Homo sapiens: one gene and its partners. The protein of the gene in region 4 purifies or fractionates together with the protein of the main gene of each other region. This does not show direct contact. Each region holds a gene or a part of one and is shown on either strand. Other genes may lie near its edges. The genes, in order: UBR7, NHSL3, DDX24, THOC5, KIF1C, PDGFRA and FYTTD1.

Region 1 (4,435 bases), on a different chromosome or scaffold from region 4:
ATTGTTCTTCTACAGCAGAATGGCATTGTGTAATTTTTCAATATTATAAAGAAAGCTAGAGTGAACATCCTCATACAGTAATACAACTGAGTATACTCCAAGTATTTATGTAGAATGGATCGGTATAATTGACGGATCAAAGTGTATTTGTGGCATTTAAAATTGTGATTGGCTGGGCACTGTGGCTTATGCCTGTAGTCCTGGCTACGCGGGAGGCTGAGACACAAGAATCACTTGAACCCATGGGGCAGAGGTTGCAGTAAGCTGGGATTGCGGCACTGCACTCCAGCCTGGGTGACAGAGCGAGACCCTGTCTCAAAAAATAATAATCATAATAAATAATAAAATAAAATTGTGATCATATCTGCCAAAAAAGTTGTACCAGCAACAGTATATGATAGTGTTTTTTCCCCAACACTTTTGTCAACCTTGCATATTACCAGTTCTTGAAAATTTTGCCATTCTGATAAATGAAGAATAGTATCTTTTTTTTCATTTTTTTTTTCAGACGGAGTCTCGCTCTGTCACCCAGGCTGGAATGCAGTGGCGCGATCTCGGCTCACTGCAAGTTCCACCTCCCGGGTTCATGCCATTCTCCTGCCTCAGCCTCCTGAGTAGCTGGGACTACAGGTGCCCGCCACCACGCCCAGCTAATTTTTTGTAATTTTAGTAGAGTCAGGGTTTCACCGTGTTAGCCAGGATGGTCTCAATCTCCTGACCTCATGATCCGCCTGCCTCGGGCTCCCAAAGTGCTGGGATTACAGGCGTGAGCCACCGCGCCCAGCCAAAGAATAGTATCTTAAATTTTTTTTTCTTTCCCTGATGATAAGTGAGGTTATGCATCTTTTCATAAGTTCATTGGACATCCATAATAACCTTCTCTCTGAATTGTCCTTTCATATCCTCAGTCCATGTTTTGATTGGTTTGGGTTTTGTCTGGGTATTTACCGATTTGAAAGAGTACTTTTTGTCTTTAGAGATATTAGTCTTCTGCCTTCTTCCTTGCTTTCTAATTGCGTTGGAACTATAATTATTGAACCAAATTATATAGAGGGACAGATTGAAAGTCTCTTTGAGTTAACAAAAATAAAACCTTAAAACTGGATTTTTTTTTTCTTTTTTTTAAGACGGAGTTTCGCTCTGTCACCCAGGCTGGAGTACAGTAGTGCGATCTCAGCTCACTGCAACCTCTGCCTCCCAGGTCCAAGCGATTCTTCTGCCTCAGCCTCCTGAGTAGCTGGGATTACAGGCACTCGCCACCATGCCCGGCTAATTTGTGTATTTTTAGTAGAGACAGGATTTCAGCATGTTGGCCAGGCTAGTCTTAAACTTCTGACCTCAGGCGATCCACCCACCTTGGCCTTCCAAAGTGCTGGGATTATAGGCGTGAGCCACCACGCCCAGCCAAAACTGGATATTTTAAGGCATGTGGTAAAGTGTTACAGCTCCTCCTGTTCCACAATATGTGCTTTTTTATTCCCTTTAAGAAGCCTACGATAGGAAAAGGACAGAACAACATTGGGATGTTAATTAACAGTTATGAGAGCCTGGGAGTAAAAGAAAATCATCCCCAAAATAGTCTATGTCCTTTGGTATATTATTTTCCTAGGGCCAGCATTTAATTATTTAATTTATTCAAATTAGAGGAGTTATCTATCGAGGTTTTTCATAACATTTACTTTTCAGTGTACTTGGCAGGATGGTTCTTCTGCAGCAGAAAGGCATTGTCTAATTTTTCAATATTATAAAGAAGGCTGGAGTGAACATCCTTATACAGTAATACAACTGAATATTGTATTAAAGGATGGTGTGGTAAAAAGTCCCAGTTGTCACTGTCTGCACTGGTCCATTCACATTACTTGCCTGGGCCTGAGTTTTGTATAAAATGGGAATGCCCTCCTTGTCTACACAGTTTTGTGAGAATCAGATATTAAGTAATGGATGTGAAAGAGCCTTGAGATTGTTTGTAAAGTGCTTATCTCAATGTAAGCCTTTGGAACACCAGTTCATGTAGAACAAATATTTAGTATCTTATTTTACTGTGTGCCAGGTTATTTCCATGTTCCCGAATTCAATGTAATCCTTAACAAACTGCTTTTCTCTGTTAGATTCCAGATGAGATGATCCAGTGCGTAGTCTGTGAAGACTGGTTCCATGGAAGGGTAAGGAAAATGTTCCACCTTTTGAAACCATTGTTGTCACAAAAAGATAAAGGTTATATTTTACATTATAATTAGTCTTCTAAAAATAAATTCTAATGATATGATCAGTGTATTATTACAGTATTTATAAAATAATGGGCATTTTGGACAATTTGGCAATCACAAGAAAATTTTTGGTGTTCTATATTCACAGCATCTTGGTGCCATTCCCCCTGAGAGTGGGGATTTTCAGGAGATGGTATGCCAGGCCTGCATGAAACGTTGTTCTTTTTTGTGGGCTTATGCTGCACAATTGGCAGGTAGGTATCTTTGTGAAGTTGGTGTGCCACAAACTTGTGCTTGTGAAATTTGTATGTTCAATTCAGAATTTTTAGCAACTATTTTTAACTGGGCTCTGTGGTTATAAAATAGTATATGTTCTGGCCAGGCATGGTGGCTCACGCCTGTAATCCCAGCACTTTGGGAGGCCAACAAGACAGATGGATCACCTGAGGTCAGGAGTTCGAGACCAGCCTGGCCAACATGGCGAAACCCCATCTCTACTAAAAATATGAAAATTAGCCTGGCGTCACGGCGCTTGCCTGTAATCCCAGCTACTCCAGAGGCTGAGGCAGGAGAATCACTTGAACCCAGGAGGCAGAGGTTGCAGTGAGCCGAGATCACGTCACTGCAGTCCAGCCTGGGCAATAGAACAAGACTCCATCCTCAAAAAAAAAAAAAAAAAAAAAGAATAGTATGTGTTCTTTCTCCACAAGGTGCATAGATTTGTTGGGATACTACCAAAAACAAATTTATACTTAAATGATATGATGCAGAGTATTGATGAGACCAGAGTTAGAGAATGGAGGAGGCAGTTTTTGAATGGGATTTTGAAAGATAAATAGAACTGAAATAAGTTGTTAATTCTAACACATGGTATCAGTTGGGGAGGAGGTGGTGTCTTAGTCTGTCTGGGGTGCTAAAACAAAATACCTTAGGCTGGGTAATTTATAAACAATAGACAGATATTTCTCACAGTTCTGGAGACTGGGAAGTCCAAAATTCAGGTGCCCGCAGAGTCAGTGTTTGGTTGAGGGCCCATTCCTCATAGACAGATCCTTCTACGTGTCCGTACCTGTTAAAAGGGGCAAACAAGCTCGCTTGGGCCTCTTTTATAAGTCAGAGCCCTCGTGAATGGGATTAGTGCCTTTATAAAAGTGGACTACAGGCACACACTACCATGCCCTGCTAATTTTGTATTTTCTGTAGAGACAGTGTTTCACCATGTTGCCCAGGCTGGTCTTGAACTCCTGAGCTCAAGTGATCCACTCATCTTGGCTTCCCAGACTGCTGGGATTACAGGCATGAGCCACCATGCCCAGTCTATCTGGTGCTTTTATTATACACTAAGAAATTAAATCAAAACAACTAATTAATGAATGGTCCTGAGGCATTAACTATCTTATTGGTAATGCTTTATGTATTTCTTTATTTTTAAGGTGGCAGTTACTCATGGTATCTGCTGCTTAGGCTTCATAATTTCTTGCCTTTCTCATCTTTAGAGACCAGTTCACCATACAAACCATGAGCAGCATAGCCATACCTCTGATCTCATCCTACAGTTTAGATTTGCCTTAGAGTTCTTTTGTTTTTCTGCCTTTTTTTTTTTTTTGAGACAGAGTCTCACTGTGTTATCCAGGCTGGAGTACAGTGGTGCTATCTCGGCTCACCTCAACCTTGCCTCCTGGGTTCAAGCGATTCTTGTGACGCGGCTTCCAGAGTAGCTGGGACTACAGGCACATGCCACCACACCTGGCAAATTTTTGTATTTTTAGTAGAGACAAGGCTTTTACCATGTTGGCCAGGCTGGTCTCAAACTCCTGATGTCAAGTGATCCACCCGCCTCGGTCTCCCAAAGTGCTGGGATTACAGGCATGAGCCACCACGCCCGGCCAGTTTGCCTCAGAGTTCTTAAGTGCTGCTCCCTTTCTGTTCACACCCTTTCCAGTGATCTCTCTCACTGTCCACAGATGCTGAACCTATCTATGTGTAGTTCTCATTCATTGGGTTTTTTTGTTTTTTCAAGACGGAATCTTGCTCTGTTGCCCAGGCTGGAGTGCAGTGGCACAATCTCTGCTCACTGTAACCTATGCCTCCTGGGTTCAGGCAATTCTCCTGCCTCAGCCTCCCAAGTAGCTGGGATTACAGGCATGCACCAGCATGCCTAGCTAATTCTTCTATTTTTAGTAGAGAAGGGGTTTCACCATGTTGGCCAGGCTGGTCTCGAACTCCTG
Region 2 (4,435 bases), on a different chromosome or scaffold from region 4:
TTTATTTTTTACATTTCTGGGAAGCCAAAATGTCACATTCTTATTGAGAAACCCCAAACTCCTCTGGGAAACCACTCCCCTATTGGAGGTATCCCATAGCAGAGGGAACTCCGCCCCTATTACATTGGTCCAGGCCCCAGGTAAGGACACTGAGGTGCCCTTTACCCAAGAAGAAAGTGGCTGGAAAAGCATATACTGCCCAACCCCAACTCTCTTAAGCACCTTGCTCTAGGGTCTGGGGACAATAATTTCCCCTGGGAGTATCACAGAGATGACACTGACACCAGGCCCTGAGGGCTGAATAGGAGTTCACTGGATAGCAAAGTGAAGGGGAGCACATTCCAGGCAGGAGAAGCAGCACAGGAACTGACACAGAAGGGGAAAACACATGGGAGTGTTGACTGACGGGCAAACAGACACCATCCTGACCTCAGAAGGGCAAGGCGCCCACGACCCCAGAGACTTGACTCTGACTGCTTTGGAACTATCTAGGCCCCTTCCTCAGCAGAGAGAAATGACATTGTTCATAATGGACTCTCCTTACCCACCTTCCTTTTTTTTTGAGTTTTGAATGAAACTGTTGCCCAGTTGAACTCCCGTCGCCCAGGCTGGAGTACAGTGGCGTGGTCTCAGTTCACTGCAGCCTCCGCCTCCTGGGTTCAAGTGATTCTCCTGCCTCAGCCTCCCAAGTACCTGGGACTACAGGCGCCTGCCACTACGCCTGGCTAATTTTTGTTTTTTGTTTTGAGACGGAGCTTTTTGTTCTTGTTGCCCAGGCTGAAGTGCAATGGCGTGATCACAGCTCACTGCAACCTCTGCCTCCTGGGTTCAAGCTATTCTCCTGCCTCAGCCTCCCGAGTAGCCTGGGATTACAGATGCATGCCACCATGCCCAGCTAATTTTTGCATTTTTAGTAGAGATGGGGTTTCGCCATGTTGGCCAGGCTAGTCTCAAACTCCTGACCTCAGGTGATCCCCTCCCGCCTTGGCCCCCGAAAGCACTGGGATTACAGGCGTGAGCCACTGTGTCCGGCCATAATTTTTGATTTTTGTATTTTTAGTAGAGACGGGGTTTCACCATGTTGGCCAGGCTGGTTTTGAACTCCTGACCTCAAGTGATCCACCTGTCTCAGCCTCCCAAAGTGCTGGGATTACAGGTGTGAGCCACCACGCCCAGCCACCTTACTCCCCTTCCTATGACATCCAGGCCACTGGGTCTCAGTGTCTTATCTGGCTGGCTGGAGGTCAGCTCTCCTTTCCTGGACACAGCTCCCATCTCCATGCCTAGCCCCCAGCCCCTACAGGCTTGCTCCCTCAGCCCATTCTCAAACTCACAGAATCCTAGAACTAGCAAGAGTCTCAGAGGCCATTAAACCCCATCTTTGTCGGCCAGTCGCGGTAGCTCACGCCTGTAATCCCAGCACTTTGGGATGCCAAGGCGGGCGGATCATGAGGTCAGGAGTTCGAGACCAGCCTGGCCAATATGGTGAAACCCCATCTCTACTAAAAATACAAAAATTAGCCAGGCACGGTGGCACTCACCTGTAGTCCCAGGCTGAAGCAGAAGAATCGCTTGAACCTGGGAGGCAGAGGTTGCAGTGACCTGAGATCTCGCCACTGCACGCCAGCCTGGGCGACAGAGTGAGACTCTGTCTCAAAAAACAAAACAAAACAAAAAAAAAACCATCTTTGTCAAGACAGGGCATGTCTGGTCCAAAGAGGGGCAGGACTTACCCAAGGTCATACAACAGAGCAGAACTCAAACTCAGGGTTCTCTCCACAACTCCACACCATGAAAGGACAGTCCTCCCTGAGTGGCCAGAGGGAACTTGGAGAGGCCACAGTGAACTGACTGGAGTTAACATGGGGCTAAGTCAGCTAGGCCTGGCAGGGTAGCTCTCAAATTCTCAGTATCAGAGCCATGCCTACTCCCACCCCTCAGCCGCTGCCCACTGCACAAGAGAAACCCTCAGGAGGACTACATACCCCTTTCCCCAAAACTGGTTTTGTCTAAAACTCTAGAGAGGTTACCTGCCTCCAGAGTCAGAAACACAGCCATCATCATATAATTTTCTTTGTAGAGTGTGGCCTCTGGAGGCAGACTGAGTGGCTCCGTCATTGTGATGCTGTGAACCTCACTTCCACATAGATGGGGACCTTGCCTGTCTGGTCCTCTGGCATTCACATCACCTTGAACAGTGCCTTACACTCCAGAGTAAAGAATATGTCCTCTTCAAATAAATGAAGCTGAGTGACCTCGGGCTACTTACTCTCACCCCTTTTTTCTCACCTACAAATGGTGGTAACTGTCCACCTCCCAGGTTGCTGTAAGGACATAGGAAGACTTTGATGAAAATGCCTGGCCAGGGTATATATAGCACATAGCAGCCTTCCTGTTACTTCTCTTCCCATTCAGATTAGCCAGGACCCTGCCCTCCTTCCATAGGCGCTCGCCTCCTCCAGAAAGCCTCCCCTGATTATCTGCTGGGCTCCAATCCTGGCATCTGTCCCAGAAACACTTCCTACCCACACACTTGTCTAGAGTCCAGGTGATATTTCTGGAAGATATGGATTCCTGTTTGTTTTTGTTTTTTTTAACTTGTTCTTTTTTGTTTTTTTTTTTTTTTTTGAGCTGGAGTCTCGCTCTGTCGCCCAGGCTAGAGTGCAGTGACGCGATCTCGGCTCATTGCAAGCTCCGCCTCCCGGGTTCACTCCATTCTCCTGCCTCAGCCTCCCAAGTAGCTGGGACTACAGGCGCCCGACACCACACCTGGCTAATTTTTTGTATTTTTTAGTAGAGACAGGGTTTCACCATGTTAGCCAGGATGGTCTCAATCTCCTGACCTTGTGATCCGCCCGCCTCAGCCTCCCAAAGTGCTGGGATTACAGGCGTGAGCCACCGTGCCTGGCCTGTTTTTTTAACTTTTTCTTATGTCTGAGTCCTCCTGTGGGACAAAGGTGAGACTCTATCCTCTGTGAATCCCCCTCAATAATCATCATCATCATGGGCTGTTTTCCAAACATGGATCAGGGTGAACTTAACTAATGCTCAAGTCCTCAGCAGCATAACAACAGCAGAAACCTGCTGCCAGCTGCACCATGCTCCACAGTTCACAACGCACTTGCATGTCTGTTAGCTCATTTGATCCTGGAAAGGCCCCTATAAAGCTAGGATTTATTATCCCTATTTTACAGATAAGGATACTGAGGCTTGGAGGGGTGAATAACCTGCCAGCATCTTGTAGCTTGAGAGGGGCAGACCAGGGAAGCAGAGTTGTCCATTTTTTTTTTTTTTTTTTTTTGAGACCTAGTCTCGCTCTGTCGCCCAGGCTGGAGTACAGTGGTGCAATCTCGCCTCACTGCAACCTCCACCTCCCGGGTTCAAGCGATTCTCCTGCCTCAGCCTCCTGAGTAGCTGGGATTACAGGCACGCGCCACCACGCCCAGCTAATTTTTGTATTTTTAGTAGAGACAGGGTTTCACCATGTTGGTCAGGCTGGTCTTAAACTCGCGACCTCATGACCCACCCACCTCAAACTCCCAAAGTGCTGGGATTACAGGTGTGAGCCACCACGCCCAGTCAAGCAAAGTTGTTCTTAGGCCCAGAGCCCATTCCTTCCAGACTGGGTCGTTAGAGCTCAGGTGACTAAACTTATAAACACAGGCATAGCAACCCCTTGCATTTCTATGGTTACTTCTCTTTAATATAATTTTCTTTTTTTTTTCTTTTTTTTTTTTCTGAGTCTCGCTCTGTTGCCCAGGCTGGAGTGCAGCGGTGCAATCTTGGCTAACTGCAACCTCCGCCTCCCGAGTTCAAGCAATTCTCTTGCCTCAGCCTTCCGGGTAGCTGGGACTACAGGTGCACGCCACCTTGTCTGGCAAATTTTTTGTATTTTAGTAGAGACGGGGTTTCACCGTGTTGCCCAGGCTGGTCTCGAACTCCTGAGCTCAGGCAATCTGCCCGCCTCGGTCTCCCAAAATACTAGGATTACAGGCATGAGCCACCACGCCCAGCCTTTAATATAATTTTCATATGCTCTCTTGTGAGAATCTTGGTGAGACAGAAAGGTCACAGCCCATCAAGGCAATGTCCAGCCAGAGGATTCCCCCTTTCTTCCCCACAAGACAGTGGTGGAATCAGGGAGCCCACTGAGAAGTTGCTCATCCTACATCATGGGGCTTGCTAGTAGCTGGGCCAGGATTTAAACTCTCATTGGCCTGATTCTGATACTCTCCCCACTCTATCAAGTTCCCTCACTTCTCTCTCTGGGCCATTTCCCATCTGTAAAGTGAGTTGAACAAGAAGATCTTCAAGCCTTACCTGCTGCTCTATGTCCTTGGGAGAGTCATGAAAACAGTCCCGATTTTTGAGGCAGGTGATTTGAGTTTAAATCCGTTTGGTCAAATCAGTCACTCACTGTCCCTGAGCCTCAATT
Region 3 (3,500 bases), on a different chromosome or scaffold from region 4:
AAGGTGTTAGCCACTGCAATACAACAAGAAAAACAAAAGGCATCCAAGACTGGATAATGATCATCTTTGCAGAAAATACCATGGAATCCTCAGAAAACTACTTGGTGGAACTAAGTTGCAGGACACAAGATCAATATACAAAAATCCATCATATTTCTACTTATTGGCGACAAACAATCGGAAATAAAAAATTTTAAATTACCATTTACAATAGAATCAAAAATATAAAATGCTTAAGGATAAATCTAACATAAGATGTGAAAAATCTATATACTGAAAATTTTAAAACATTGCTAAGAAAAGTTAAAGATCTAAAGAAATGGAGAGATACCATATTCATAGACTGGAAAATTAAATATTGTTAAGACGTCATCTATCCTCAATTTGCTCTGTAATCAACAGAATCCCAATCCAGATATCAGCTTACTTTTTTTGTAGAAACTGATATAACGGATTCTAAAATCCATATGGAAGGGCAAAGGCCTACAACAGTCAAAATAACTTTTAAAAAGAACAAAGTTAGAGGACTCATACTACCTGATTTTAAGACTTATTATAAAGCTATTATAACCAAGAGAATAAGAAACTGACATAAAGACTAGACAAACAGATCAATGGAAAACAAAAAGACTCCAGAGAAAGACCCACACCTATATGGTCACAGACTTTCAACAAAGATGCAAAGTCAACTCAGTGGAGAAAGAATAGTTTTTCTACAAATGGTGCTGAAATAATTAGCCATATGCAGAAAAACCCACAAACTTTGATCCATACTTCTCACTCTAAATAAAAGTTAACTCAATAAGGATCAGAGACCAAAACATAAAACCTAAGACTATTAACACTTCTAGAACAAAACACAGGAGAAATCTTTGTGATCTTGAATTAGGCAAAAGGTTCTTAGATAAAACACCAACGGCACCAAAAGCATAAATTCATAAAAGACAAGGCTAATTTGGATTTCATCAAAATAAAGACTTTCTGCTCTTTGAAAAACACTGTTAAGAGAACGAAAAGATAAGCCACAAACTGGGAGAAAAATTTGCAAATCTCACATCTGATAAAGGACATGTATCTAGAATACACAATGAACTCCCAAAACTCTACAACAGAACATCCCTATTTTAAAAATGGGCAAAATAATCAAACAGACAAATAAGCATATGCTAAAATGCTCTACATTGCTAGTCACTAGGGAAATGCAAATTCAAATGACAAGGAAATAATAGTAAAATTTTAAAAGTCTAAAATAAAATTAAAGACTGAGCATACCTAGTTATTGACAAGAATATGGACCAACTTGAACTCATACCACCTAGTGACAACGTAAAATGGTATAATCACTTTGGAAAACTCTTTAAAAGTTACATTTACCACAAGACCTAGCCATTCCACACCTAGGTATTTATCCAATAGAAATTAAAGCACATATCCATACAAAGACTGGTACAATAGTATTTACAATAACTATATTTGTAATAGCCAAAAACAAGAAAAAGCACAAATGTCCATCAATAGATGAACAAACTGCTCTACCCACACATTGGAATACTATTCATCACTAAAAAGGAATGAACTGCTAGTAATTGTAATAACATGGCGTAATCTCAAATTATGCTGAGTCAAAGACTCAGATACCACCCCCTCCAGTACATATTATATGATTTCATTATATAAAATTCTAGAAAACGCAAATTAGGCCGGGGACAGTGGCTCACACCTGTAATCCCAGCACTTTGGGAGGCCGAAGCAGGCAGGTCATGAGGGCAGGAGTTTGCGACCAGCCTGACCAACATAGTGAAACCCCGTCTCTGCTAAAAATACAAAAATTAGCCAGATGTGGTGGCAAGTGCCTGTAATCCCAGCTATTCGGGAAGCTGAGGCAGGAGAATCACTTGAACCCAGGAGGCGGAGGTTGCAGTGAGCCGAGATTGGGCCACTGCACTCCAGCCTGGGTGACAGAGCGAGACTCCGTCTCAAAAAAAAAAAAAAAAAGAAAGCAAGAAAATGCAAATTAATCTATAGTGATAGAAAGCCTATCAGTGGTTGCCTGAGGAGGAACAAGAACTGAGGGAGGGAGGGAGGGACAACAAAAAAAACCCAGGGTATCTTTTTGGGGGTAATGGATATACAGTTGACCCTTTAACACAAATTTGAAGGTAGGGGTCCACTTATACACAGAATTTCTTCCACCTCAGCCACCCTGAGACAGCAAGACCAACCCCTCCTCTTTCTACTCAGCCTACTGAAAGTCAAGATGAAGATGAACACATTTATGATGATCCACTTCCATTTAATGAATAGTAAATATATTTTCTGTTCCTTACAATTTTCTTAATAACATTTTTTCTCTAGCTTATGTTACTGTAAGAATAAAGTATATAATACAAAATATGTGCTAATAGACTGCTTATGTTATCTGTAAGGCATCCAGCCAATAATAGGCTATTAGCGTTTAAGTTTGGGGGGAGTTCAAAATTATACATGGATTTTCGACTGCACAGGGGACCAATGCCCCTAATCCCCACATTAAGGGTCTATTTATTATTGCATGGGCAGTGGTCTGTTCACAGCCCCAGATGGATGACTTATCCAAGTCGTTTTGAATTCTGGACTTGTAGATTCACAACCTGACAGGAACTGTGGTATACATCCAAATGTCAATCTCTGGCCACAACGGCTCATATAAACCTTGTTTCTGCCTTCCACGGACTTACTTCCAGGACTCTGCTGCACATACCAAAGCAGTGTAGCAGAATGCTTAACAACACACAGAACTAGCCTGGAATCCATACACTACCATTTCAGTTGTGTAATTTTAGGGAAGCTGTCTATGCTCTGTGAGGCTGAGTTTTCTCATCTGTAACATGGGAATAATGGTACTTACCCCAGGGTGGTTGTGACAACCGATTTCATCAACATAAAGCACTTAACACAGTGCATGACACATCTTAAATGCTCAGTAAATGTTCTAAGTTATTATCTCCATTCCCCTTTCCTGTAGTTCCTCACTCTTCCATCTATATGACTGCCACAGAACATCATCCTGAGTTTCCTGACCACTGTTCCAGAAACCCAAAGCACGTGTCTACTGAACACTTAAAATGTAGTTACTCTAAAATGACATGTGCTGCAAGTTTAAAACACACCAGATTTTGAAAATTTAGTAAAAAAAAAAAAAAGAACATAAAATATCTCACTAGTTTTTAACTTTTAAAAAATGTGACTCCTAGTAAATTTTAAATTACTTATGTGTTTCACATTATACAGTCACCCTTCTGTAACCGTGGGTTCTGCATCTGTGGATCGACAATATTCGGGGGGGTAAAAAAAAAAAAACTGTATCTGTACTAAACACTGTACAGACTTTTCTTGTCATTATTCCCTAAACAATACGGTGTAACAATTTACATAAGACCTATGTTGTATGAGATATTATAAGTAATCGAGAGATGATTTAAAATATACAGGAGGATGTGCCTATATAGGTTATATGTAAG
Region 4 (3,500 bases):
GTGCTGGGATTACAGGCGTGAGCCACCACGCCCGGCCACTAAGGTTTTTTTAATCCCTTACTTTTTATCAAAATTTTATAACAAAGATTTGACTGGTTGAGAAGTTTTTTTGTTTTGGTGTTATATTTTTATGACTATAAATAGCCTTTCCTTTTATGTTCATCATTTTTACCAAGTTCAGTTGTCTTAGCCATATGTTGCAGATATAAATTTTGCCAAGAAGGTGATTCCTTCATCAGGTTTTGTCAATTAATAACCTTCATCGTGGGCAGTTTTAGTTCTGTTTTATTTATTTACTAATAGATTGAATCAATCTATTAGTAATAGTCCCTAAACACTTGCTAAAAGACTGAAAAGTTTTATTTTATTTTATTTTATTTTATTTTATTTATTTTTTTGAGACAGAGTCTCGCTCTGTCACCCAGGCTAGAGTGCAGTGGTGCAATCTTGGCTTATTGCCAGCTCCGTCTCCCGGGTTCACACCATTCTCCTGCCTCAGCCTCCCAAGTAGCTGGGACTATAGGCGCCCGCCACCATGCCCAGCTAATTTTTTTTTTTTTTTTGTATTTTTAGCAGAGACGGGGTTTCACCGTGTTAGCCAGGATGGTCTCGATCTCCTGACCTCATGATCCGCCCGTCTCGGCCTCTCAAAGTGCTGGGATTACAGGCGTGAGCCACTGTGCCTGGCCTGAAATGTTTTATTTGTTTGGTAGTCAGTTCTCCATTTGAGGTGGTGAAGGGGGCAAAGACCTTGGGGAACAGGGATACTCAGTGAGACACAGTAGGGAAGAGCTGGAAGCCTCCACTGTCCTAGCATGGAGTTCCTGAAGGCATGCTGGGGCCAAAACGCAGGACCGGCACGTGCTGCCCAAGTTGCTCCTGACGTTATCCATGGAAAGATGAAGGAGAACCCCCTTTGGTTCAGGGAAAGAATGGGCCTTGTCATCCTTTGTGATAAAATTACTACATTACCCTCCCACATTATCTCTTTTTTGCTTGTCACATTTAATGACAAACTGTGCCCGAACCATCCCAGGTGGGTGGCAGTGGCGTCACTATTTCTCTCCGCTTGTAGCTGTGGGTCTCCAGTGTATGTGATTGTATCTTTTTCTGGGAACATACAGGGGGCCTTTTCCTGTGATGAGCATAAGATTTGGTCAAAGTGAGATAGACATAGCACCAAAGCTATACACTTGTTCTCTCTGTAGCAGAAAGGAGTCTGTTCTGCTTTTATGAAAATTGAAATTATTTCTACTGATGGTGTCATGGGACTTTGCTCCCCTGAGGTAAGGCCTTAGGCACCATATAAATCTTGAAGGGATGAGTTTTTTAAAAATTAATGATTAAGAGTACTAGTCTGTTTGATCAGACAATATAAAGCCACCTCTAGCACTTACTAGCAGTGTGATCTTGAATAAGCCATATCTTTTAAAGCCTTGAGTTTTTCCTCTATAAAATGGAAATGATAATCCTCCCTCATAGGGTTGTAAGGATGCAATGACCTCAAGCATATAAACGGTCTGGCCCACAGAAAGCCTTCAATAAATGGTGGCATTGGTCATCAGTGAGACGTGGCATTACCATCCCCAAATGCCCAAGCCTATGTTGAAGAAAGATGTTGGCTGCATTCTCACTGCTTACTGTTTTTCCTTTTCTAGTGACTTGCTGTCTCCTGACTCAGTCCTGAGTTGCTTGTATCCTGGGGATCATGGAAAGAAAACTCCGAATCCAGCCAATCAGTATCAGTTTGATAAAGTTGGGTGAGTCAGCAGTTTCCTCCTCTCCGAGCTCTCTACTTCTGAGTTTCTCTGGTGGCTCAAGCTAAATGCTGGAGACCTGTTAGGGCCAGAGGTGACCCAGAGGATAGGAAAGACCACAGGGTAGAAGGAAATGTTTGTTCTTTCTTGCTTACAAGGCAAAGGGAGATCACAAAAAGGGTGGAAGGATCAAAACTCGGAAACATGCTGGGTGTGGTGGCTCACGCCTGTAATCCCAGCACTTTGGAAGGCCAAAGCAGGTGGATTCCTTGAGCTCAGGAGTTCGATACCAGCCTGGGCAACATGGCAAAACCCTGTCTCTACAAGAAATACAAAAATTAGCCAGGCATGGTGGTGGGCATTTGTAGTCCCAGCTACTGGGGAGGTTGAGGTGGGAGAATTGCATGAGCCCAGGAGGTTGAGGCTGCAGTGAGCCATGGTCATGTCGCTGTACTCCAGCCTGGGGGCAACAGAGCCAGACCCTGTCTCAAAACAAAAACAAAAAGAAAAACAAAAAAAACCCTCTGGAAGCATAATAATACGTGATACAATAAAAATGTTTGACATTTTAATTATCCGAGGATTAATTTTTAAAAGATTTTCTAAATTGGTAGACCAATAAAGACATTAGTACACTGCCTTTGTATTTGATATTTGCTTATAAGTTGAAGGCTGCAAGAAGAAAAGGAAAAAGAGGAAAGTGAATGTGAGAGAGATGAAATTCACAGTAGGGAACTGACAAAGTTGAAGGGCTTTGCCAGCAGCCTGGCTGTGAACATGGCCAAACCTGCAGGACTGGATGGTTTGTGGGGCATGGGAGGGTGGGAGGAGGCTGTATCCTGGGACCACAGCAGAAATGACTTACAGCACAATTTTATTTATCTTCTTTTCTGCAGCATCCTGACTTTGAGCGACTATGTACTTGAGCTAGGTCACCCCTATTTGTGGGTGCAGAAGCTGGGTGGCCTCCACTTCCCCAAAGAGCAGCCCCAGGTCTGTACACTGATCTCATCTAGTTGGCTGAGGAGCTTACCTCTTCTCTTCCTGTATAGACTCTAGAAAGGCCAGGCCAGGTGCGGTGGCTCATGCCTATAATCCTTGTACTTTGGGAGGCTGAGGCAGGTGGATCACCTGAGGTCAGGAGTTTGAGACCAGCCTGGCCAACATGATGAAACCCCATCTCTACTAAAAATACAAAAAATTAGCTGGGTGTGGTGGCACGTTCCTATAATCCCAGCTATTCAGGAGGCTGAGGCAGGAGAATCACTTGAACCAGGGAGGCAGAGGTTGCGGTGAGCTGAGATCATGCCACTGCACTCCAGCCTGGGCAACAAGAGCAAAACTCCGTCTCAAAAAAAAAAAAAAAGGCCTGTCATGGCCTTTGGAGTTTTGAACTGGCAGAATGTGTCCCCTCAGGGCTGTGACCTGTCTTCTATCCACTCAGGACACTAAAATGTCTTAGACTTACAAGAGTTTACGTACCTTTTGCATTTTCTCTGAGCCTAGTAGCCTTTTAGACCCAGGCAACTTGAGTCCTTGCTCTGGGACTCATGTCTGCAGGCTCTGCTGCCCTTGTTCTTGTGTGCAAGTACCAAATATGAGGCATGAGCAGAAATCCAGGGGGCCTGGCCCCTTAGCAGAAGCCTGCCTTTCCTCAGGAGTTGGACACAGCTTCTCAAGAACGCAGCATATTGTGTTGTTTCTGCCAGGACTCAGCGTCTGGCCTGTCATAGCAGATAAACC
Region 5 (4,435 bases), on a different chromosome or scaffold from region 4:
AATTAGCCAGGCATGGTGGCACATGCTTGTAATCCCGGCTACTCGGGAGGCTGAGGCAGGAGAATTGCTTGAACCCGGGAGGTTGAGGCTGCAGTGAGCCCAGATCGCGCCATTGCACTCCAGCCTGGGCGACAAGAGCGAACACTCCGTCTCAAAAAAAAAAGAAAAAGAAAAAGAAAAAGAAAAAGAAATCTCGGCAGTCATAGCTGGATAGAGGCAGGTTTTCCACAGGGACAAGTTCCGATATTCAAATACAGGTTTTTGTTTAAAAAGGATCAGAGTGCTAGTTGTGGTGAACAAGATCAAGAAGGGCAGGATCTTCTCTTCAGCAAAATCCCACACTCTGGCTCACTAGTGTCCCATTTCTACCTTAGAACCCTCGCCAGTGCCTGACCACACAGTAGTCTGTCTTCTCAGGGTGGGTGCAGAGGGCTGGGCCTGTGGTATTCCTCCATTCATACCCATGAGCCCCAAGCCCCTCTGAGGACAAGGCCACATCCCCTCTTTATATGGCTGCACTCCCTGGTGCCCAACCCAGACCTCTGAGTTCAGTGTGTGGGGTGGAACATGGGGCCTCTCTCCCTGTCTGGCCTCTCTCACCCCCTCAGCCATTACCTTCTCCATCTGGCTGGGGGATGCTCCGGAACAGACAGTGTTGCTCCCGAATGAACTGTCCGGTCAGCTTGATGTCCATATCTACTTGGCCGACCCTGGGGAAGCAATGGCCAACGTTTGTGAGCATGTGCCAGACTTTAACCAAGCCCCTCCTGAACACCAGTTTATCCAACTCAATGAACCAAGCCAATTATTCCCATTTCACAGATGAGGAAGCAGAGGCTCAGGGAGGTGAAATGGCTTGCCCGGGTTCATTCAGTGGGCAGTGAAGTGATGCTGGGATCTGAGCCCAGGTCTGCCTGACTCTGAAGCCATGCTCTTAGTCACCATGTTATACAGCAGGCTCGCCAACTTCTCTTGAAGCTGGGAGAGCATGCAGGGCTGTGGAGGCAGCTGTTTAGAGATCTGAGTTATCTCCAGGGACCACCAGGGAAGGGAGGCACCAATGTGGCTAACCCTCAGCAGCCATACCCCAAAAGCAGAGGCTGCCCCCCGGGCCACTGGGTACATGCTACCTGGGTACAAGCAAACCTGGGAGAAACGGGCACCCTCAGCCACAGGCCTCCACCCATCCTTAGGTTGATGATCCTGAGAGCTCACTCCCTACCCAAGATGACTACCAAGGACAGCCACGAATGCCTGTGGTGGGAGGGGAAGGGCACCCTCACCCCTTTAGGGGAGGCACCGAGCCCCCATGACTTCATAATACCAGCCCAAGGAGCCACATGCCCTTAGCTGCCCAGCCCTCAACCGCACAGACCAGGCCGTGTTTCCCTTCTCCCGCCCCCAGGGAAGGCCCCACCAAGGGAGGCCAAGGCAATGGCATCAGGGTCTAAGAATGAGGGGGTCTATGTTTCCCAACTCTCCTGCCCCAGTAAACAAGGTTGTCTCGCCCTAACCAAACTGGCAGGTGGAGGCAAGACAGCCACTGAGCAGGCACGCTTCTCTTGAAGCTGGGAGAGCGTGCAGGGCTGTGGAGGCAGCTGTTTAGAGATCTGAGGTATCTCCAGGGACCACCAGGGAAGGGAGACACCAATGTGGACAACCCTTGGCAGCCACACCCCAAAAGCAGAGGCTGCCCCCCAGGCCGCTGGGTACACGCTACCTGGTGACGCCATCTTTGATGTGGTAGAGCAGACACTCAGACATCAGAGGGTCTTCGTTCAGGTTCACCAGGTGGGGAGTCTAAGCGGGGAGAGAAAGGTGGTCAGGGGGAGCCAGCCAGGGGTGCTATAGAAAGGAAGAAAGGGAGCGGTGGGAGGAGACACCCCTCCAGTCCTGGCACTGCCAGCTGCGCCCCCTCACTCTGGAGAGCTCTCCTGCCCTCTGTACTCCTCCCATCGTCATCCCTCCACCCCGATGACGTTCTTTGGTTCCCACCTCTCACACCAACCGCCTTCAGGACAGCCTGATCCACCCTCTCCTCACACAAGGGGCCGACAAAAATTGCCCCACCCATCCAGCTGCATCCAGGTCAGCAACCCTTCCCAAGGCCTGTCTCTTCAGAAGCACCTCGACCCACCAGGCTCCCTCACCAGAAGCCCCGGACCCCCTGCATTCTCTTCTTCCCTATATTCCTCTGTCTCAGGTCCCATCATTTCTTTCCTCAAAATGTACCTTGCAGCTTCTGGAGAGTTGGGGGAGACTGAGTGAGCAGACTGGTACTCCCCACCTTTCATCAACCTTGAATTTCCTACACACATGAATTACTTTCACAATTTAAAAATAAAAAGTGTCACTTCAACTTAAAAGCAAATGGAACAAACATGTTTCTCGAAGCAGACTCATTGACTCTTCCCCAGTGACTACCCCTCCCTGGGCTGCTTCACCTCAAGCCTGGGTCCCTGCAGCACCCGCCTGGGGCTGTCCCTGCCTAAGGCCCCCAGCCAAGTCCATCCTGAACACCTGAGTGATTGTTACGCTGCTCTGTGCTGAAAACCCGGCCCATTCCCTTCTCCCACAGCACCTTCTCCTGACTTGTTTCCATTATAACAGCCCTGCCCTTGCTGGGCAGTACTCTGGATGGCGTACAGGCGACGCTGCCTCTGTACCCCCATTCATGCCACTGCTGCCACGCCTGGGGAAGTCTCCCTTCCTGCCAGCTGCTGCCGTGCCACACACCTCTCCATCCCTCGGCACCACCCTGCACCAGGCCCACCTGCCTTCCTGCCACCCCTTAGGTCTCCCAGCTTCCTGCCCACACCTCGCTATGGCCATGTCTTTGCCTCTCTGCTGAGACCTCTCCAGCTGGAACCCCAGGCCCGCTGGACTTGAGCCTACTTTTTCCCCTGGCATCCCTGGGCCTCCTCCATGTCCCGGCTCCAGTCCATCTGTCCAAGCCCCCCTCCCAGGCTCTCTCCCAGACTCTGTACTTCCACTCAGCGGACCCCTGAGCACTCCCTCCAAAGTAGGCCTCCTGCATCCCTGACTGCCAATGTCCCCAACAACAGACCGCCTCCCGCCCCGCCCCCACCTGCCAAAATCATTCACTTCCTTCACGTTCCTCCCAGTCTGTCTGAAATGCAACTTCCTCCGGGAAGTTTTCCTAAGCCTTCCATCAGAACACAAGACCCCTGCCTCTGCTGCAGAAGGACTGACTGTGGCCTTTCTACCTCACCCTGGTGAAGCGCTAGGCGGGGTACAGAGATGAGTCAAGCCCAGGCACTGCTGTCCAGTCAGTCAGGAAATGAGAGTCAGCTAGGGGAGGTGAGGCTTGGCGTGGAAACACCATTACAAGTGGGAAACGGATGCCTCATGGAGGAGTTTCTGATTGTCTCATGCCCTTGTTTAAGTTCGTTTATTCATTCATTTGTTCCCAGGGGGTTGAGTGCCACTGTGTTCTGGGAGGGACTCACATGCAAAGAGGAACAAAGTGAAGAACTATGGGATTTCAAGGGGATCAGGAGGACTTAATGGAAGGGTAACATGGGAGCCAGCCTTTGAGGACAAGGAGGGCGTGGACATGCACAAGAGCGCTCCGGGTGAAAGCAGCCTGGACAGAAGCATGGAGGCAGAAAGCACAGGGTACAGAAGGGAAACAGCACGGAGTCGAACCTCTATTTCTCTGGGAGCCACTTAACACTCAGAGCCCAAAGCTGTGTCCCCCAGAGGTGTCTGTGTATCTTGTGCATCCGCCCTTCACCCAAGTGCTCCAAGGATCACTCCTGCGACACTTCTCCTGAGGGACTCCCATGCCCCTCCCTACACTGCAGTGTCAGGCCTGCTCTGGGACTGGCAAACGCTGATGGGCTCCGGAAGCAGAAAGCAATCTATCCCTGGGGAGAGGGAACACGATTTGAGGCGGTGCTTTTCAACTTTTTCTTCAGCCCTATAACTCTTTGTTCAAAATGAAACCTTCTCTAGAAGCCTAGGACATCAAGCAGATAAGCAAGAAGCTGCTCAGGCCCAGGCTGGGGGTGAGAGCCCCAGGGTCTGGTCCTGTCCCTATCCTCAGCCCCTGAGAAGGCAGCTCAGAACCAGGTTTGAACACCACTGATTTAAGCAATCCTTAGCCCTGGTGGTGGGGGTCTTAGCAAGAGGAGGCTCCCTCCAAGACAAACTGTAGTTTTTTCCTCTAAGACCCAACTATTCCCTGTTGGAGCTACTCACACCAAACCCATTTCCCCATGAGTCTAACAGTTCTCTCTTCTGGCTTTAGACCACATGGCTTTTAAACATGAGAAGAGTTCATCCTCACCACCTTGAGAAAAATGTAAAAGTGAACTACCTTAAGACACCTTCTCACCAATCACACAGGCAAAGAGAAAAGTCTTACTAAGCCAGAATGTGGGAAAGGGCGAGGGGAAATGGGCTCTCTTGT
Region 6 (4,435 bases), on a different chromosome or scaffold from region 4:
CAGGTAACTGGTGAATTACCAAAGTCCCAGTGCACCAGAGCTTCACTGAAGCAGCACAGTGACTGGACACAGTAGAGTCCAACAACGTTCACTCCACATGTAATTGCTGAGCTCCTTCTCTGTGCCAAGCACTGAACTAGGTTGCTATGCTTGTTCTCATTGGCTTCAAAGATCTTTAGTTTTATGAGAAAATATCTACCTGTTTCCAAATGACAACCAGGACAATAAGTGAGATGATCACAATCACCAACAGCACCAGGACTGCAGCAGCCACCGTGAGTTCAGAACGCAGGGCTACGTGACAAGAGAGAGAGGCACAATGAAAAGTTTCCTGGCAGACATGCACAGGGGCAGCAAGGTAGTGTGGCTGTGTCTGAGCCAGGAATCTCTCACTGCTGGTGGGGAAGTGTGAGGGCTGCCTGGTTCATTTTAGGGATAGGCAGTACCATCTCTCAAACCATCTACACCCAGGAAACTACATCAACTCTTTCCTTATACAAGAAGGGGACAAAATTCAATCAGGAGAACTCAGTATTTTCTCCAAAGTTGCTCCAACAGTAACCTTGTGGACAGAATTTGAATAGGATAAATGCAATTGACAGCTACTATATGGGCAGACACCTCTACTTCATATGCTTTATTATAAAGCTTATTTTGTAAGTTGCATTTTGCTTATATTGCTTTTGGCTTCATCTATCTTTTAAGGAGCAATGAGACAGAAGATCCTTCCCCACACTCCATCCACATACACAGACATTCAAAGTAGAGACTGTAGCTATATTATTAGACAAGCAAAATGTTGAGGGGCCTCTGCAAAAATGCAGTTTTGGATCTGAATCTAAAACAACGTCCTAGGTAGAGGTTGCAGTGAGCCAATATTGTGCCATTGCACTCCAGCCTGGGCCACAGAGCAAAACTCTGTCTCAAAAAACAAAACAAAATAAAACAAAGTCCCACATGACTTTAAGAGCATTCATAACTGAATTTCTGCCTTGGGACCTTCATTTCTATATAACCCCTATCTGGGATTCAAAGTTCCGCCTGGGGCAGATGCGGCTCAGCTGATGAGTTGTCCTGACTGTTGAGGAACTCACTGGGAGCCACCAGCTTCAGCTCTCGGTTCTCAGCTCCAAGGAGATTCTTAGCCAGGCATCGCACGGCGATGGTCTCCTCCACTTTGGCGAAAGTCACACGGCCCTCCACGGTACTCCTGTCTCGGGAGTGGATCTCCGTGATGATGTTTGAGACATTGTTGGCCAAAATAGTCCAGGAAGTTTCATTATTACATCTAGAGAGAAAAAGGGCCTAAGTATAGGGCCAATTCCTGAGAGTCATGGCAATGAGTGGAGCCACGGGAACACTCTAAGATGGCAAGGAGTTGGGACCTTGTCTGCATTTCGGGGCAATACACACTGATTTATTTTACATGCAGATGAACATTAAAACTTGTCTGCATGTGCTGAAGAGGGAATAACTCACACATGAACAACTGAAAGCTAAGTGTTTACATAGCAGGCAGAGATAATCAAGTTTAATAAAATATGACTACCATTCCCCAATCTTGAACCTATGAGCAAACTGAACAGTTCAACTTCAACCATATTTAATGATCTCAATCTCCCACCCCTTCAAAAAGGCCTGGAGCCCTCCCTTCTCAACACTCACACTGGGAAGAGCCCCTAGGGTGTCACTAGGGTTGCGATGATCCTCAGATTGAGTTATAAGACCTAGAATCCTGCTCCACACTGGAATCTACTAGAAACCCCAGTCAACATCCAAGTCTGTTCTTAGCCCTAGAAGTTAAGATGAGGAGTCTCTGTCTAGAGGAAGAAACAACTGAGGCTTCTGAACACAACCAGTTACCATGGATGAAGTGTAAACACATTGCTCATGTGCCCATTTAAGAAGGCTGAGGACTCGGGGGAGGGAGGAGGGAATGGCGAATTAACCCACCAAACAGCAGGTGGGCAGATAAGGGACTAAGCAGTCACATTTATGTTTACATGCAGTCCGACTACCAAACAAAGTTCACCAAATAAGATATGTGAGCCAGGGTAGTAAAAATCTTCTTAGAACAGTGGTTCTTAAAATTCACTCTTGTTTTTAGATTGGAGACATTTTGAAGGTCTAATGAGAGCCCTGGACCTTCTTCTCACAGCTATTCATGACAAAAGATACACACCCTGAAGCTATCACACCCAAAACCCTATCTTATAGTCAATAAGTAAAATGTATTTGACATCATTTGTGTCAAGGGAGAAATATTCTGACCACGAAAGAAGAAGACACATCTGTTTTCCATACTTCTTAATATCTTTGCATATCATCCACTCAATATCAGGAAGCGGCGTGCCTTCAGCTGTGCACCTCACCGTCTGTCCCCCAGTTGAGCCATGGTGATCATCGACCAAGTCCAGAATGGATGAAGGAACTGCAAGAGGCAGAAAGAAGTCAGAATGGAATAGCTCGTGTCCCAGAACATATGAGACTACAAAGTGGAATATGAGTTCACAACTCATCTACATGGCATTCAAAACACTCCGGAGGGGCTGAAACCAGTTGTACAAGTAACACTCCAGTTTAGACAGACCCACATGGTTAGCAGCATTTTCACAGTTTTGGTGTTTTGAGATTTATCCCTGTGATGTTTTTAACCTGGAGTGAAGAAAGTGAAAAGTCCATGGTTGTGATGCCTCACACATGTAGCCCCAGCTACTTGGGAGGCTGAGGTGGAAGAGAAACACTTGAGCCCAGGAGTTTGAGGCAAGCCTGGGCAACATGGTGAGAAGAAAAATGGGAAGGGAAGGGAAGGGGAGGGGAGGGGGGGAGGGGGGAGGGGAGGGGGAGGGGAGGGGGGAGGGGAGGGGAGAATGAAGGAAGGAAGGAAGGAGAGAAAGGAAAAGAGAGAGTGAGGGAAGAGGGAAGGAAGGAAGAAAGGAAAGAAGGAAGGAAGGAAAAGGGAGAACAAGGGAGGGAGGGAGGGAGGAAAAGGAAGGAAGGAAGGAGAGAAAGGCAAAGAAAAGAGAGAGTGAGGGAGGGAGGAAGGAAGGAAGGAAGGAGAGAAAGGAAAAGAAAAGAGTGAGTGAGGAAGGAAGGAAGGAAAGAAAAAGAGAAAGGAAAGGAAAAGAGAGAACAAAGGAGGGAGGGAAGAAGGAAGCAAGGAAGGAAGGAAGGAGAGAAAGGAAAAAGGGAAGAGGGAAGGAAGGAGAGAAAGGAAAGGAAAAGAGATAACAAGGGAGGGAGAGAAGAAGGAAGGAAGGAAGGAAGGGAGGGAGGGAAAGAGAGAGAGAAAGTCCCTTGGTTATTTGGCTTGAAAGGCAAGGAGGTTCTTAAAATTATATTATAGCTTAGGATTCAACTAATGGATTCAGCTAAAGTATAATCTAAAGCAGCATTTACCAAAATGCATCTGTGGTATGTTATTAGGTTTTAAAGATTCTTTTCTAAATCTGTGGTCAAATAAATTAGATATACGGTGTTGCTTGTATCACAGGTTTTACTGTGAGGATCACATGAGCGCACCTCAGACAGCACCTGGCTCATGGCTGGGACTCTGGATAGGTGCTGAGCCTGAATGTAAACAGACTTGGGCACTCCCTTCTGGTAAGGACCACTGTACAATGTCTATAAGGAAAACTTGTAGCAAAACTCTCCAGAACAATCTAAGGTCATCTGCTTCTCTCTTCTCAGATTGAGAAGCAGGTGCTAAGTAAGCTGGTGGAGGCCAGGTGCAGTGGCTCACACCTGTAATCCCAGTACTTTGAGAGGCCAAGGTGGGAAGATAGCTTGAACCCAGGAGACCAGCCTGAGCAACATGGCAAGACTCCATCTCTACAAAAATAAAGCTAGCTGGTGGAGCCTAGGGATTCCTCGCCTACTCTAGAGTAACCCAGAACCTCCCAGAAATACCTGAATTCATGAGTCCAGCAGAGGTATTCCCGATATGTGACATATGCAGACACTGCTTCTCCCCTAAGTGCTGCTTTTCTTCCATGACCGGGGAGAAAAGTGCCAGGCTTTCCTTGGAAGACACTCATCTACAGAGCTAGCATTATCTTTATACTCCCTTTACATACCTTGAGTTAACAGTTCAAAAGTATAGCTCTTCACAGCATCTTCATTTTGAGCTACAATAGTATAATGGCCACTGTCTTCTTCCTTAGCACGGATCAGCTTTAATTTGCTTCGATACCTTTTAAAAAAAGGATTTTGTTTCAACAAGCAGTAGCTAAGTAAGTTCCAATTGTTTAAACAATTGTACTCTTCAATTTAAGTTTTATTTTTACTGTAAAAAGTAAAGTCATCTTTTTTTCTTGTCCATATCATCTCTTCTGGAATTCTCAATATATAGTGCACACACTGAAGGTCTGGATCATACACACAATTCTTACAAGAGAAAACCAGACATTCAGAGATGAGCAATGGCCATCTCCAA
Region 7 (4,435 bases), on a different chromosome or scaffold from region 4:
TTTGTTTGTTTGTTTTTTCCCAAAGAGGATCCTGAGCAGCCACCTTTAGTAAGCCTCAGTCATAGGCAGCATTGGGTTCAGGATGTGAGGCACGTGGTAGTAGATTAGTTCTTCCTGTTGTATGTTTTTTATTTCCCATCTTTTCTTACCCTCAATAGCAATGTCTTATAAGAATTTAACTCGTTATTTGGGAATAAACCTGTATTTGCCACTCGTTCTCATGTAGGAATTCCAACAGGGAACTGTTGCCAGAATAGCGTGGGCCCCTCTGCTGCACTCACGCACACACCCCACTGGGTTAGGAAGTTCTAGAATAGCACGGGCCCCTCCGCTGCACTCACGCACACGCCCCACTGGGTTAGGAAGTTCTAGAATAGCGCGGGCCCCTCCGCAGCACTCACGCACACGCCCCACTGGGTTAGGAATTTCTAGAATAGCGCGGGCCCCTCCGCTGCACTCACGCACACGCCCCACTGGGTTAGGAAGTTGTAGAATAGCGCAGGCACCTCCGCTGCACTCATGTACACGCACCACTGGGTTAGGAAGTTCCAGAGCAGGATCGCTCTTTGGATTCAAATCCTCTGCTTTCTGTGGTACCTACTGCTTTTTTTTTCCCTTCAGGTGCAGGCCCAGTTGAATACAGAACAACTGCTAGACGATGTAGTAGCAAAGAGAACTCGTCAGTAAGTTTCCATTTGTTTTTTAAGATGTTATTTCAAAACTCCCAGAATACTAACTACCCAAATTATCATGTACCTCAGTCCAGAAGAAATTAATTGAAACCCAAAATAAAATTCAGTCTGAAAGCTGGGCATAGTGGTGCTACACACCTGTAATCCCAGCTAGTTGGGAGACTGAAGCAAGAGAATTGATGGAGCCCAAGAGTTCAAGGCTGTGAAGTGCCATAATGTCACCTGTGTATCGCCACTGCACACCAGCCTGAGCAGCATAGCTCGATGCCACTGCACACCAGCCTGAGCAGCATAACTTGATTGCCACTGCACACCAGCCTGAGCAGCATAGCTCGATGACCAGTGCACACCATCCTGAGCAGCATAGCTCGATGACCAGTGCACACCAGCCTGAGCAGCATAGCTCGATGACCAGTGCACACCATCCTGAGCAGCATAGCTCGATCGCCAGTGCATACCATCCTGAGCAGCATAGCTCGATCGCCAGTGCACACCAGCCTGAGCAGCATAGCTCGATCGCCAGTGCACACCAGCCTGAGCAGCATAGCTCGATGGCCAGTGCACACCATCCTGAGCAGCATAGCTCGATCGCCAGTGCATACCATCCTGAGCAGCATAGCTCGATGGCCAGTGCACACCAGCCTGAGCAGCATAGCTCGGGCTATGGAGACTGTCTCCAAAAAAATTTTTAAACATTGAGGCTAAAATAAATAAATCTTGTTTTGTCCTTTGTTAATTTTCCCCAAAAACCTTTTGAGTTTTCATGTGTCGATATTGTAACAGTTTTAGTGCCACGTAGATTACTTCATTTTTATTATTTTTATTTTTTATTGGCTATACCATTTTAATGAAACAGCTTTTTCTTTTTCTTTTTTTTGCTATAACTGCTTTCATACAAATGAACCTATTTAGGGAATGAATAGAATAAAATTCAGTGGAGCTTTTAGAACATTTGTACAACTTTAAAAACAATAGTTTTCCTTTTCACAGTCTTTTTTTCTTAGCCCTATAAAAAATCTTTTGAAAACCTATTTTATCCTGTTATAATCACACCTCCTAAGTGTGAGTTGTAACATACTAATTCCATCAGTGTGATTAGGTTTTGAGATTAAACTATTTAAAATTATGACTACTTTTTGGAAAATAAAATATATACACTTGGCCCTCTGTGTCTCAAGGGAATTGTTGCCAGGCCCATTGAAGAGATTAAAATCCTCAGATACTCAAGTCCCTTTCAGTCGGCCCTCCATATCCGCGGATTGTCTCTGTGTCTCAGGGGAATTGGTTCCAGGCCCACTGAAGAGATTAAAATCCTCAGATACTCAAGTCCCTTACAATCGGCCCTCCATATCCGTGGATTGTTTTCATTCTGCGGTTGCAACTGATTGAATACATGGACGTAGAACCTGTGGATACAGAGAGCTGGCTGTAAAACATGGTCAGGGCCCAGATATGGTGCCAACTGTGGTGCATGATTTTTAGCAATTGGAGTGTTAGGAAACTGTGAAACTGATACAGGTGGTATTCTTTAGCACAGGGGTCATGACATTAGAAACCATGGGGAAAGAAATAATAATTGTAGCCTTTTTGCTTCTGCAGTGAACAATATTTACATAATTGTGATCATATAAATGTTATTTGTTTTGAACTTTGAGAATCAACCTGTTAGACAAAGCACAAAATAGTTAATTTGAGAACAATATAATGTAAATGTCCGATTTTGACTAATGTGAATATAAAGGAAGAGCTGACAGAAAGTGAGAGGTACAAACAAAGGAGCAGAGGTGGAGGGAAGGAATAGAGGCACTATTATCCTTTCACATAAAGCTGGGGGTGGGTTCAAGAGATTCTGCTGAAAGAAACAGAGATTTAAGTATTTTCAGTTACAAAGGCCTGGAAATAGTGATACAGCCATCAAAATGTTTCATGGTGGGTAAGGAAACTGGAGGATAGTTTGACGAACTAAATCTTTATTCATCATAGCAATTTTTTTTTTTTTTTTTTGAGATGGAGTCTCGCTCTGTTGCCCAGGCTGGAGCGCAGTGGCACAATCTCAGTTCACTGCAACCTCCCCCTCCCGGGTTCAAGCAGTTCTCTGCCTCAGCCTCCTGAGTAGCTGGGATTACAAATACCCACCACCACACCCCACGCCCAGCTTAAATTTGTTTTTTTTTTTTTTTTTTTTGGTAGAGATGGGGTTTCACTATCTTAGCCAGGCTGGTCTTGAACTCCTGACCTCATGATCCACCTGCCTCTGCCTCCCAAAGTGCTGGGATTACAGGTGTGAGCCAGTGCCCGGCTGCAGCAAGGTTTTTTTTTTACTATGTAAGCATCTTGTTTAGTGAATTGGAAGTAACCAGAAAGCAGTAAAAACAGGTTAAAAGTGCTGCCTCTGGAGAGTAGGAATAGAAAGCAGGAGAATAGTGGGGTGAGGGACTGTTGCTTTTTATTAGAAGTTCTTTTGTACTATTTGATTTTTTTAAATTTGTATACATTTATTACACTGAAAAATATTTAATAAATTAATTCAGATGCCCAGTTCCGCACCCAAGATGTTGATTTATTATATCATGGTGGGGTTCAGGTACTTATTTCTTACAAGCTAAGAAAAAGTAATGGCTACTTTTAATGTTCATTTTTATTTTGAATATACATAGGGTTTATCAACTTACATTTAATGAATTTTTTTTATTTTTTTTGAAACTAGATGGCGGACTTCCACCACAAATGGAGGGATTTTGACTGTATCTATTGACAATCCTGGAGCAGTGCAATGCCCAGTGTAAGTTGTTTCTTTCTTTTTGCAAAAATTATAACCTCTCATTACATGAGATCATAAGAAAGTATTGGACTTCTGCTCAGAGAATGATGTCCAAGTTGGGATGAACCAGGAAGACAGTAATACCTGTGATACAATATGGAAACAGTATATGGTGTAAAGTAAAGTAAGAGCTTTCTTGATTCCTGATTCTGCAGCCCTAAATGACCACGTTGGAACAGTGTTTTTTATGTTTTAAAAATTATGTGCATGTATACTCTGTGTACCCTTTTTTTGGAGGCAAGGTCTGGCTCTGTTACCCAGGCTGGAGTGCAGTGCCATGATCATGGCTTATTGCAGTCTTGACCTCCCAAGCTCAAGCGATCCTCCTGCCTCAGCCTCCCGAGTCCTGAGGAGCTGCAGCGACAGTTGCCCACCACCATGTCTGGCTTTTTTGTTTGTTTGTGCCCAGACTGGTCTTGAACTCCTAGACTTAAGCAGTCCTCTTGCCTTGGCCTCCCAAAATGCTAAGGTTACAGGTGTGAGCCACTGCACCTGACCCAATATATATATTTTTGTGTACAATAATAAACGAGATGATGGTATACATGCTACTTCTCCTAATCCCTGTAATGTTTTCGATGTCTTTATTTTTCAGACCATACAGACCTACGTTCTCTTTAAATTTATTGCTTTATAAACTTTGTCAATTTATGGAGCTTATGTTCTATTCAACCATCTCTTGATTTTTTTAAGAGATAACGTCTCACTCTGATGCCCAGGCTAGAGTGCAGTGGTGCCACCATAGCTCACTGCTGCCTCGAACTCCTGGGCTCCAATAATTCTCCTGCCTCAGCCTCCTGAGTAGCTGGGAACATAGGCATGCACCACCACACCCAGCTAATTTTTTTTTTGTACAGATGGGGGTCTTGCTGTGTTCCTTAGGCTGGTCTCTAACCCCTGGCCTCAAGCGATCCTTGTGCCT

Evidence for each region.
Region 1: the proteins of THOC5 (region 4) and UBR7 fractionate together in Homo sapiens (co-fractionation; one large-scale study listed by BioGRID). This does not show direct contact.
Region 2: the proteins of THOC5 (region 4) and NHSL3 purify together in Homo sapiens (affinity purification with mass spectrometry; one large-scale study listed by BioGRID and IntAct). This does not show direct contact.
Region 3: the proteins of THOC5 (region 4) and DDX24 purify together in Homo sapiens (affinity purification with mass spectrometry, with the first as the bait; one large-scale study listed by BioGRID). This does not show direct contact.
Region 5: the proteins of THOC5 (region 4) and KIF1C purify together in Homo sapiens (affinity purification with mass spectrometry; one large-scale study listed by BioGRID and IntAct). This does not show direct contact.
Region 6: the proteins of THOC5 (region 4) and PDGFRA purify together in Homo sapiens (affinity purification with mass spectrometry; one large-scale study listed by BioGRID and IntAct). This does not show direct contact.
Region 7: the proteins of THOC5 (region 4) and FYTTD1 purify together in Homo sapiens (affinity purification with mass spectrometry; one large-scale study listed by BioGRID and IntAct). This does not show direct contact.

Annotation. Positions count from the first base shown.
Region 1 is NC_000014.9:93,212,821-93,217,255, forward strand, and holds part of UBR7 (putative E3 ubiquitin-protein ligase UBR7), read left to right. Parts: intron 1-2,108; coding exon 2,109-2,162; intron 2,163-2,355; coding exon 2,356-2,461; intron 2,462-4,435. UniProt on the Homo sapiens protein: E3 ubiquitin-protein ligase which is a component of the N-end rule pathway. Recognizes and binds to proteins bearing specific N-terminal residues that are destabilizing according to the N-end rule, leading to their ubiquitination and subsequent degradation.
Region 2 is NC_000001.11:32,744,424-32,748,858, reverse strand, and holds part of NHSL3 (NHS-like protein 3), read right to left. Parts: intron 1-4,435. UniProt on the Homo sapiens protein: Able to directly activate the TNF-NFkappaB signaling pathway.
Region 3 is NC_000014.9:94,074,703-94,078,202, forward strand, and holds part of DDX24 (ATP-dependent RNA helicase DDX24), read right to left. Parts: intron 1-3,500. UniProt on the Homo sapiens protein: ATP-dependent RNA helicase that plays a role in various aspects of RNA metabolism including pre-mRNA splicing and is thereby involved in different biological processes such as cell cycle regulation or innate immunity.
Region 4 is NC_000022.11:29,519,258-29,522,757, reverse strand, and holds part of THOC5 (THO complex subunit 5), read left to right. Parts: intron 1-1,658; coding exon 1,659-1,760; intron 1,761-2,653; coding exon 2,654-2,750; intron 2,751-3,500. UniProt on the Homo sapiens protein: Component of the THO subcomplex of the TREX complex which is thought to couple mRNA transcription, processing and nuclear export, and which specifically associates with spliced mRNA and not with unspliced pre-mRNA.
Region 5 is NC_000017.11:5,011,018-5,015,452, reverse strand, and holds part of KIF1C (kinesin-like protein KIF1C), read right to left. Parts: intron 1,801-4,435; coding exon 1,721-1,800; intron 711-1,720; coding exon 616-710; intron 1-615. UniProt on the Homo sapiens protein: Motor required for the retrograde transport of Golgi vesicles to the endoplasmic reticulum. Has a microtubule plus end-directed motility.
Region 6 is NC_000004.12:54,270,390-54,274,824, reverse strand, and holds part of PDGFRA (platelet-derived growth factor receptor alpha isoform 1 precursor), read right to left. Parts: intron 4,193-4,435; coding exon 4,077-4,192; intron 2,432-4,076; coding exon 2,305-2,431; intron 1,289-2,304; coding exon 1,095-1,288; intron 295-1,094; coding exon 200-294; intron 1-199. UniProt on the Homo sapiens protein: Tyrosine-protein kinase that acts as a cell-surface receptor for PDGFA, PDGFB and PDGFC and plays an essential role in the regulation of embryonic development, cell proliferation, survival and chemotaxis.
Region 7 is NC_000003.12:197,773,528-197,777,962, forward strand, and holds part of FYTTD1 (UAP56-interacting factor), read left to right. Parts: intron 1-621; coding exon 622-683; intron 684-3,399; coding exon 3,400-3,474; intron 3,475-4,435. UniProt on the Homo sapiens protein: Required for mRNA export from the nucleus to the cytoplasm. Acts as an adapter that uses the DDX39B/UAP56-NFX1 pathway to ensure efficient mRNA export and delivering to the nuclear pore.